3 separate regions of the Homo sapiens genome follow, and regions 1 and 2 are each linked to region 3. Evidence: fine-mapped QTL for protein levels in blood plasma. Region 3 holds a variant in brackets. A gene starts in each other region. All regions are shown on their forward strands.

Evidence for each region. PIP is the chance, under the fine-mapping model, that this variant and not a neighbour inherited with it causes the effect. Protein levels are from antibody-based Olink assays in UK Biobank. Linkage for the fine-mapping came from a reference panel and not from the study's own genotypes, which makes the PIPs less certain.
Region 1: it holds the start of TNFRSF11B, and the variant in region 3 is fine-mapped to the plasma level of the TNFRSF11B protein (UK Biobank, PIP above 0.99).
Region 2: it holds the start of TNFSF11, and the variant in region 3 is fine-mapped to the plasma level of the TNFSF11 protein (UK Biobank, PIP above 0.99).

What each region holds. Positions count from the first base shown.
Region 1 is chr8:118,950,477-118,953,226 of GRCh38, forward strand. TNFRSF11B (TNF receptor superfamily member 11b) reads right to left here and starts at 1,409. Exons shown (of 5, transcript NM_002546.4): 1 at 1,316-1,409. The coding sequence starts at 1,345. It also overlaps a transcript of COLEC10 not described here.
Region 2 is chr13:42,572,518-42,575,232 of GRCh38, forward strand. It overlaps TNFSF11 (TNF superfamily member 11), which reads left to right and starts at 1,635. Exons shown (of 5, transcript NM_003701.4): 1 at 1,635-2,005. The coding sequence starts at 1,787. RefSeq lists a silencer at 1,573-1,942 and an enhancer at 2,033-2,232.
Region 3 is chr3:172,575,515-172,578,274 of GRCh38, forward strand. All of the region lies in intron 2 of LINC02068 (long intergenic non-protein coding RNA 2068), which reads right to left. Among named protein-coding and RNA genes, the nearest start is that of LINC02068, 19 kb to the right of the region's middle. The variant G/A (reference allele first, on the strand shown) is at 1,196.

The DNA.
Region 1 (2,750 bases), not on the chromosome of region 3:
CAGAATACTGATTGTTCTGGCCATAGACACAGTAGTGATGGAAGCTCTTGAGGTGCCGATAATATATTTCTTGATCTGTGTGCTAGCTCACAAGTGCTCACTTAGAAAAACTGCATTAGGCACTTACCACTTGCACAATTCTCTATGTGTTATATTTTAATAAAGGTTTACTTTTTTAAAAGCACTCCATAGTATCTCTAGCGATGAAGTTATACACACACACACATACATACATATATATTTTAACATACTTATGGGTAGATTCCTATCCAACTTACCTGTTCTTTAGTGTCTTTACTATTTATTTACTTATTTATGTTTCTGTATCCTAGGAACTAAGTAGAAGACTACCTAGCCTTCTATTCATTATTTGTGGGTTGGAGGTTGAAGTTCAAACATTTACTCAAACACATCCAAAACACATATGTGGCTTAAATATGGCTTTTCCTAGCCTTGCATAAATGTCTGATTCATATCTTGATGTACTCTACACTCTAGTGTCATAGAGAAAATAAGTCATTGGTCATAGAAAAACCTACATGCAAATCTTATTAACTTGATCAAAACCTAAGCTTAAAAAAAAAGCTAAGTCACAGAGATTCCTTTCTTTTCCAAATAACATTTTAAACACAATTTTTAGCCCTATTTAGTGAACTTCAATTCTTTAGATATGTTTTAGAACATAACATACTGCCAATATTCTCCACAGTATATTGAAGTTGAGAAGTGAAATAATTTTAACAATAAAATTTTATTAAAACATTACACAGTTAAGAAGTGTGTGTGTGAGAGATCTTTTCTCCTAATTATTCAAAATTTCACATAATATTTACATTAGAAAAATCTATCATGTCATATTCTAATTATAATGGTTTTAAGAAGACTAACGTCTTCTTCCAACTTACTCTGAATCTAAGGGACCACTTCTTTGCCACTAATAATAAAAGTTCAAGTTCATTAAGCAAAGATAGTATGGACTACATGAGGGCGTTAATATTCTGAGATGAAGACAGAAGGTTAATGACTAAAACTTTCAAACAAGTTTCTCTCTCTCTCTCTCTCTCCCTCTCTCTCGCTGTCTGTCTCTCTCTTGCTGTCTTCCATAAAGTCAGCAGGAACTTTGCAGCGTAAAAGGACACCCTAGGGGAAGCATGGCATAACTTGAAAGCGGTTTCCTGCTCCAGCCTAACCCCAAGCCTCTCCTGGGAGGGAGCGAGTGGAGCCTTCTCCCCGCCGGTCCGCTGGGAGGTTGGGAGACCAGGTGGCAGCAGCCTCCCCAGGCGCCGGGCACCCGTCGGCTGGCCCAGGGACTTACCACGAGCGCGCAGCACAGCAAGTTGTTCATTGTGGTCCCCGGAAACCTCAGGGGCTTGGAGGCGGCGGCTGGGCGAGCGCTCCGGTGCGTCTCCGCAGCCCGTGCGCTCATCACGTTATATATAGCGTCCCGGCAACAGGAAGTATCGCCTGCCTTTGATCAGTCATTTTTCTATCCTGGACCAAACTTTGCACCTTTCTTTTTTAGGAAGCTTGGGCGGGAGCGGTCGGGGGGTGTGCAGAAAGCTCCAGGGTTAACGCTTTCAGGGCTGGGGCGGAAAGGATCCCCCAGGGAGGTGGGGCGTGAGGGGTGGGGCGGTGGTGTCTGGCCCCTGGGAGAGCAGGGGAAAAAAAAGCCACCGGGCTGAGGAACAAGGCGGCTGCTGTCTCCGCGGGGCTCTGAGGTTTCCCGGCCCCTTCCCGCCAGCGGCCAGCCTCCTGGCAGCCGGGACCAGCGGTGGGAGGGCTGGGCACACGCTGGGCAGCTGCTGTGCTTGTGTCTCCTCCACCCTGAGAGTCCGATCCAGCCAAGATCCGGACGCAGTTGGAGTGTGTCCCAGACCTTTGTCCTCTCGCTGGGCGAAAGCTGTGAGTTTCCGCCGTACCCGGCTGCCTGACCCCTTCACTTCGGGTTCTGAAACCTCAAATTACAGGGCCCCTCTTTATGCATGGCATTGTCTGAGCCCTTTTCGGGGAGTTCGCAATCATTCATCTTCAAGTTTACATAAACCATGTAGTAGGAATTTTTCTAACTAATGTCTGATTGGCCCTAAAGCCCGTGCTATTCTGCATTCACTCCTTGTTATCTGGGGTAGTTAGAGCCAGAGAGAATCTGCAGAGTGAAAATTGGACTGCCTGGGGCAGGGATAACCTTGCGGAGCACTGTTCCCTTCACCAACCCCACCATCATCAAAGGGCTATTGGTATCGGAGCTTCCTACGCGCTGAACTTCTGGAGTAGCCTCCTCGAGGTCTTTCCACTAGCCTCAAGCTATCGACAGAAGTTTGGCACTTTGCTCTAGGGTTCGCTGTCTCCCCCATTAATTCCCTGGTCTAGAAGTTAGACTTGATGACTTGTAAAGTGTGGTCCCATTCATGGATTACAGTTCGCGGGTTGCCACTGAAATTGTTTACAGATGGCTGAAAAAGTCCCTGCAGAGCTGCTTCCCCATCAGGGCCAAGTGTTCAAGTTATATGTCTCCAGAGAAGGGCAAATACTGCCTTTCACCAGATTCAAGGGAAGGAAGGTGAAGAATCAGGAGAGGGGACCCCTGGGGAGCAAGGATGGCTTACCAGGATCAGAGCATCTGCCCCTTCCAAGGGACATCCTTCCACCACGAGTTCAAAGTGGATCCACAGACTGTTCCATCCTGCAAATTACAGAAGACGGGGTGTCATTCAGCTTTGTCCCTCAAGGGCCAGAATGTAACAGCATGC
Region 2 (2,715 bases), not on the chromosome of region 3:
ACAATAAACCTACTTCCCAAAGTTAACAAACAAAAAGTGGGAAGAGGTCAAAGACTACAAGGAGTAGAATTAACGTCAATTGTTTCTATGTTTGAGTCTGAAAATTTTTTGTCCCTTCTCCACCAACCTATATATTGATACACATATAAATGCTAAAGGCATTTTTGAATTTGAACAGATCATTTTCTTTGTATGGCTGCCTTTAAAAAAAATTCAACCTGGTCACTCTTCCTCAACATTTACTGAGGTCTAAGTGTTCAATTTAGAACACATGCTTTAATAACTCAGAGACCTGTCATTTGTCACAAATCTTGCCTAGAGAAATACTCATTAGCGAATTAGGCAGAAAGAGGATGCAAAATAAAAAGGCACAGTAGTCCCCTGATATCCATGGAAGACTGGTTCCAGGACACCACCAAACCCCTCCCCGCAAATACCAAAATCCATGGATGTTCAAGTTTCTTAACATATCATGGCATAGTATTTGCATTTAACCTACACACATCCTCTTGTACACTTGAAATTATCTTTAGATTATTTATAATACTTAATAGAATGTAAATGCTATGTAACTAGTTGTGTATCATTTAGGAAATGATCACAAGAAAAAAAGTCTACAGATGTTAGTCCAGACACAGCCATCCTTTTTTTTTTTTTCAAATATTTTTGATCTGTGGTTCATTGCATCCACAGATGTGGAACCCATGGATACTGTGGGCTAACTGTATTAATAAAAAAGTGGAAACATCCTAAGTTTCATGGGTGTTTAAATTGGTCAGCAACTTCCTTCTGAAGAAGTATCAGAATTTGTGAGCAATGTTAATATTTTTGTTTTCTCACTAAGAGCCACAGTTCTGAATAGAGGTTTTTAAAAAGCCCTAGCAAGGTTTCTTTAGCAATGAAACTAACATTTAACTGTATCATCAGCTTCGTGTTACATCTCTTTCCTGACTGTTGGGTGAGCCCTCCTCGGATGCTTGCTTCTGGCTACACGCCCCTTTACCCTTTTCTCTGCACTGTTTTCATCTTTATAAAGTCAGAGTTGGTGTCTATAGGCTCTCTACTGCCACATTCAAGACCTGCCTCGCTCAATGTCACCTTCAAGATGCAGAAATAGGGATTTGGGAAGGGGATTGTGAAATTTTCGAAGTCTTCCAAAATACTTTGAGAAACTATATTTGGAAGCACTTTGGGGGGAGAGGTTGGACAGGAAGGGTCTTCAGAGATCATCAAATTTAACTTTCTAAATCCTAAGGAGGAAACCGAGACTCCAGGATGTGAAGTCCCTTCTCTACCAAACTAGAATGGATGCAGGAGGAATGTCTGAGGTGCAATCCTTATCCTTTAGCAAAGGTGTCCTCTGCGTCTTCTTTAACCCATCTCTTGGACCTCCAGAAAGACAGCTGAGGATGGCAAGGGGAGTCTGGAACCACTGGAGTAGCCCCCAGCCTCCTCCTTGGAGGGCCCCCATGAAGGAGGCCCTTCAGTGACAGAGATTGAGAGAGAGGGAGGGCGAAAGGAAGGAAGGGGAGCCAGAGGTGGGAGTGGAAGAGGCAGCCTCGCCTGGGGCTGATTGGCTCCCGAGGCCAGGGCTCTCCAAGCGGTTTATAAGAGTTGGGGCTGCCGGGCGCCCTGCCCGCTCGCCCGCGCGCCCCAGGACCCAAAGCCGGGCTCCAAGTCGGCGCCCCACGTCGAGGCTCCGCCGCAGCCTCCGGAGTTGGCCGCAGACAAGAAGGGGAGGGAGCGGGAGAGGGAGGAGAGCTCCGAAGCGAGAGGGCCGAGCGCCATGCGCCGCGCCAGCAGAGACTACACCAAGTACCTGCGTGGCTCGGAGGAGATGGGCGGCGGCCCCGGAGCCCCGCACGAGGGCCCCCTGCACGCCCCGCCGCCGCCTGCGCCGCACCAGCCCCCTGCCGCCTCCCGCTCCATGTTCGTGGCCCTCCTGGGGCTGGGGCTGGGCCAGGTTGTCTGCAGCGTCGCCCTGTTCTTCTATTTCAGAGCGCAGGTGAGTGGCCACCTTCCCAGGGGATCGCGGCTGAGAGCGCCCATCTCCTTCCCCCGCACTTGGAAACTGAGTCTGGCGGCAGGGCTGGGCCACCCAGAGCTTGCATATTCCGGAAGGGAAAGTGACTCCAGAAGGGAGAGAGGAAGTGTTGAGTTTGGGGACAACCTGGCGCAGGGCTGTCGGGCGCACCCTGCTCTCTCTCCGCCCACGCACCCCAGCTTCTCGGTGCTCTGGGGGCGGACTCCCCTGGCCGGACGATGGGTTTGAATCTCACCCCGTCCCTTCGCTGGGAAACAACACTGGCCTCTCACCTTTTCTGGTAGTGATTGCATACTTTTTCTCCCTGTCATTTCTCACTTGAAGTTAAGAATCAACTTCTGTTCACGTAGGAAAAAAGATGAGCGCCTTCACTTGGGCATCTACCTTTCCCTTCCCGCCCACCACCCGGCGGGTTTCGGTTCCTGCGCCTGGCTGCTCTGCAGGTGTGCTGGGGCCACGGTGCTGGAGGGCTGCGCGGAGCGGGAGGTCGCGGTGCTCGTGCCCAGGTCGCCCAATGGGTGGGCAGAATGACACGGCGCGACCAGAGAGGCGCGGGCTCGGGATGGGGGCTCTGCGGCTGTGGCGCTGTCCTGTGGGGGTGAAGGAAGAGGGACAGCCCCACGTGCCTGCTAGGGATGTGGGCGGAGGAAGGAAGCGAGGTGAGTGTGATG
Region 3 (2,760 bases):
GCTGAGAATAACGGTTTCCAGCTCCATTCATGTCCCTGCAAAGGACATGATCCTATTCCTTTTTATGGCTGCATAGTATTCCATGATGTATATGCACCATAGTTTCTTTAACTAGTCTATCATTGATGGGCATTTGTGTTGAATCTATGTCTTTGCTATTGTGAATAGTGTTGCAATAAACATACATGTGCATATATCTTTATAATATTAATAGAATTATTTATATTCCTTTGGGTATATACCCAATAATGGGATTGCTGGGTCAAATGGTATTTTTGCCTCTAGATCTTTGAAGAATCACCACATTTTTCAAAATGGTTGAACGAATTTACACTCCTACCAACAGTGTAAAAGCATTCCTTTTTCTCTGCAACCTTGCCAAATCTGTTGTTTCTTGATTTTTTAATAATCGCCATTCTGACTGGCATGAGATGGTATTTCATTGTCATTTTGCTTTGCATTTCTGTAATGAATCCTGAGATTTTTTTTTTTTTGAGACGGAGTCTCGCTCTGTCACCCAGGCTGGAGTGCAGTGGCACAATCTTGGCTCACTGCAAGCTCTGCCTCCTGGGTTCATGCCATTCTCCTGCCTCAGCCTCCTGAGTTGCTAGGGCTACAGATGCCTGCCACCACGCCTGGCTAATTTTTTGTATTTTTATTAAAGACAGGGTTTCACCGTGTTAGCCAGGATGGTCTCGATCTCCTGACCTCGTGATCCGCCCGCCTCGGCCTGAAGTGGGAGCTGAACAATGCGAACACATGGACACATGGCAGGGAACAACACACACTGGGGCCTGTCAGGGGATGGGGAAGGGAGGGCATCAGGGAGAATAGCTAATGGATGCTGGGCTTAATACCTAGGTGATGGGTTGATCTGTGCAGCAGATCCCAAAGTTCTGGGATTACAGGCATGAGCCACTAGCGCCCAGCCCAAATCCTGAGATCTTAATGTTAAACGATTGGTTCAAGCAATTGAACCGCAAGAGGAATGCTTGTTAGACTGAGTTGATTTTGCTGACTGGTTCTCTGCCCTGAGTGTTCCCACCAACACTTGAAGGGTTCAAAACAGCAGAGGCATTGGTGGGTGCCAGAGAGAAACTACTTGAAAAGGAACCACTTCCACCATTATATCCTGAGCTAACATCTTTGGAGAAGACAGACTAAAGATGGGGCCAAGATTTGGGGCCACCAGTGG[G/A]AACTGAACGCCTGTGCCCTAGTTTGAGAGGCAGGGGAAAAGGGTACTACACAAACTATTATGAGTCTCTTGAACACTGGGGACACTGGGGTCACTGTCATTTCCAGTTGTGGGCAAGAATGACAGGTGACACTGCGAGATTCAAAACTAACACTGTCACATGGAAAGTTGCCATGCACTTAATTGTGGATTCCTCTAGCACCTTTACCATGGCCAGGGATTGTAGTTCCCACTGCTAAATGTACAATACTTATATAAAGTTTGGCCTCCTGTACACAAGGCACCCATCGTGATTCTGGGGTTGCACCCCACCAAATGGTTTCATTTGGATGAGCGTCATGGGATACGTCCTGTTCATGTGTTGTTTTCCTGACCTTCTCTACATCTTCCTCTAGTTCTCTGAGCATCTTTAAGACCGTTGTTTTTATGTCTGGTAGATTCACCAGCCATCAGGTCTTTTCAAGGAAGTTTCTGTTGATTTCTTTTTTTCCTTTGAATGGTCCATGCTTTACTGCTTCTTTGTATACTGATACAGTTTGGCTCTGTGTCTCCACCCAAATCTCATCTTGTAGCTCCCATAATTCCCATGTGTTATGAGAGGGACCCGATGGGAGATGACTGAATCAACAGGGGTGGGTCTTTCCTGTGCTGTTCTTTTGACAGTGAATGGGACTCACAAGATCTCATGGTTTTAAAAACGGGAGTTTCCCTGCACAAGTTATTTTTTTGCCTGCTGCCTTCCACGTAAGATGTGACTTGCTCCACCTTGCCTTCCGCCATGATCGTAAGGCCTCCCCAGCCATTTGGAACTGTAAGTCTAAGAAGCCTCTTTCTTTCGTAAATTGCTGAATCTCAGGTATGTCTTTATCAACAGCATGAAAATGGACCAATACATATACCTTGTGATTTTTTTGTTCAAAACTGAACATTTGGGTCTAGTAATGTGATAACTTTAAAAATCAGATTCTCTCCCTTCCCAGGACTTGCCGAGTTTTGTTTTGGGGTTGGTTTTTGTGGGGTGGTTGTAGGCTATCTGTGTGCTGAGCATTAGCCTGAGGTGCAAACGTAAGGTCTTCTCAAGTGTTTTCTGAGTCTGTACCCCTTTCCCCGGGTTTATGTGGTGACTTAATTTCAAATGTCCTAGTCCTTAATGTCTGACCCTCCAGAAAAGAAAGGAGAAAAATGAAAGTGGGGAAAAAGCACTTGCCTTTCAAATTTCCTGGAAGTCACTAGAGGGTGGGGGAAGTGGGGTCGGTGGGGGAGGGGGGCAACAATAAGAGAACATGCAACAGTGGTTTCCTTTTTCTGTACTTCTATGTTTAGAAGCAACAATTTAGAGCACAGATCCCCAATAATTAGAGTACAGCATTCCTTTGTCCACACTGGGCAAAGCTATGTGTAAGCTACTCCAGGATCATCTGCACAGCTGCCTGCCAAGCCGCTGAGGGTAAGGGATGGCTACAGCTGACAATGACTGAAACTAACTGCAATTTACAACCTGATATTGTTTGGCTCTGTGTCCCCAGACAAATCGAATCTTGAATTATAATCCCTATTTGTGTTGA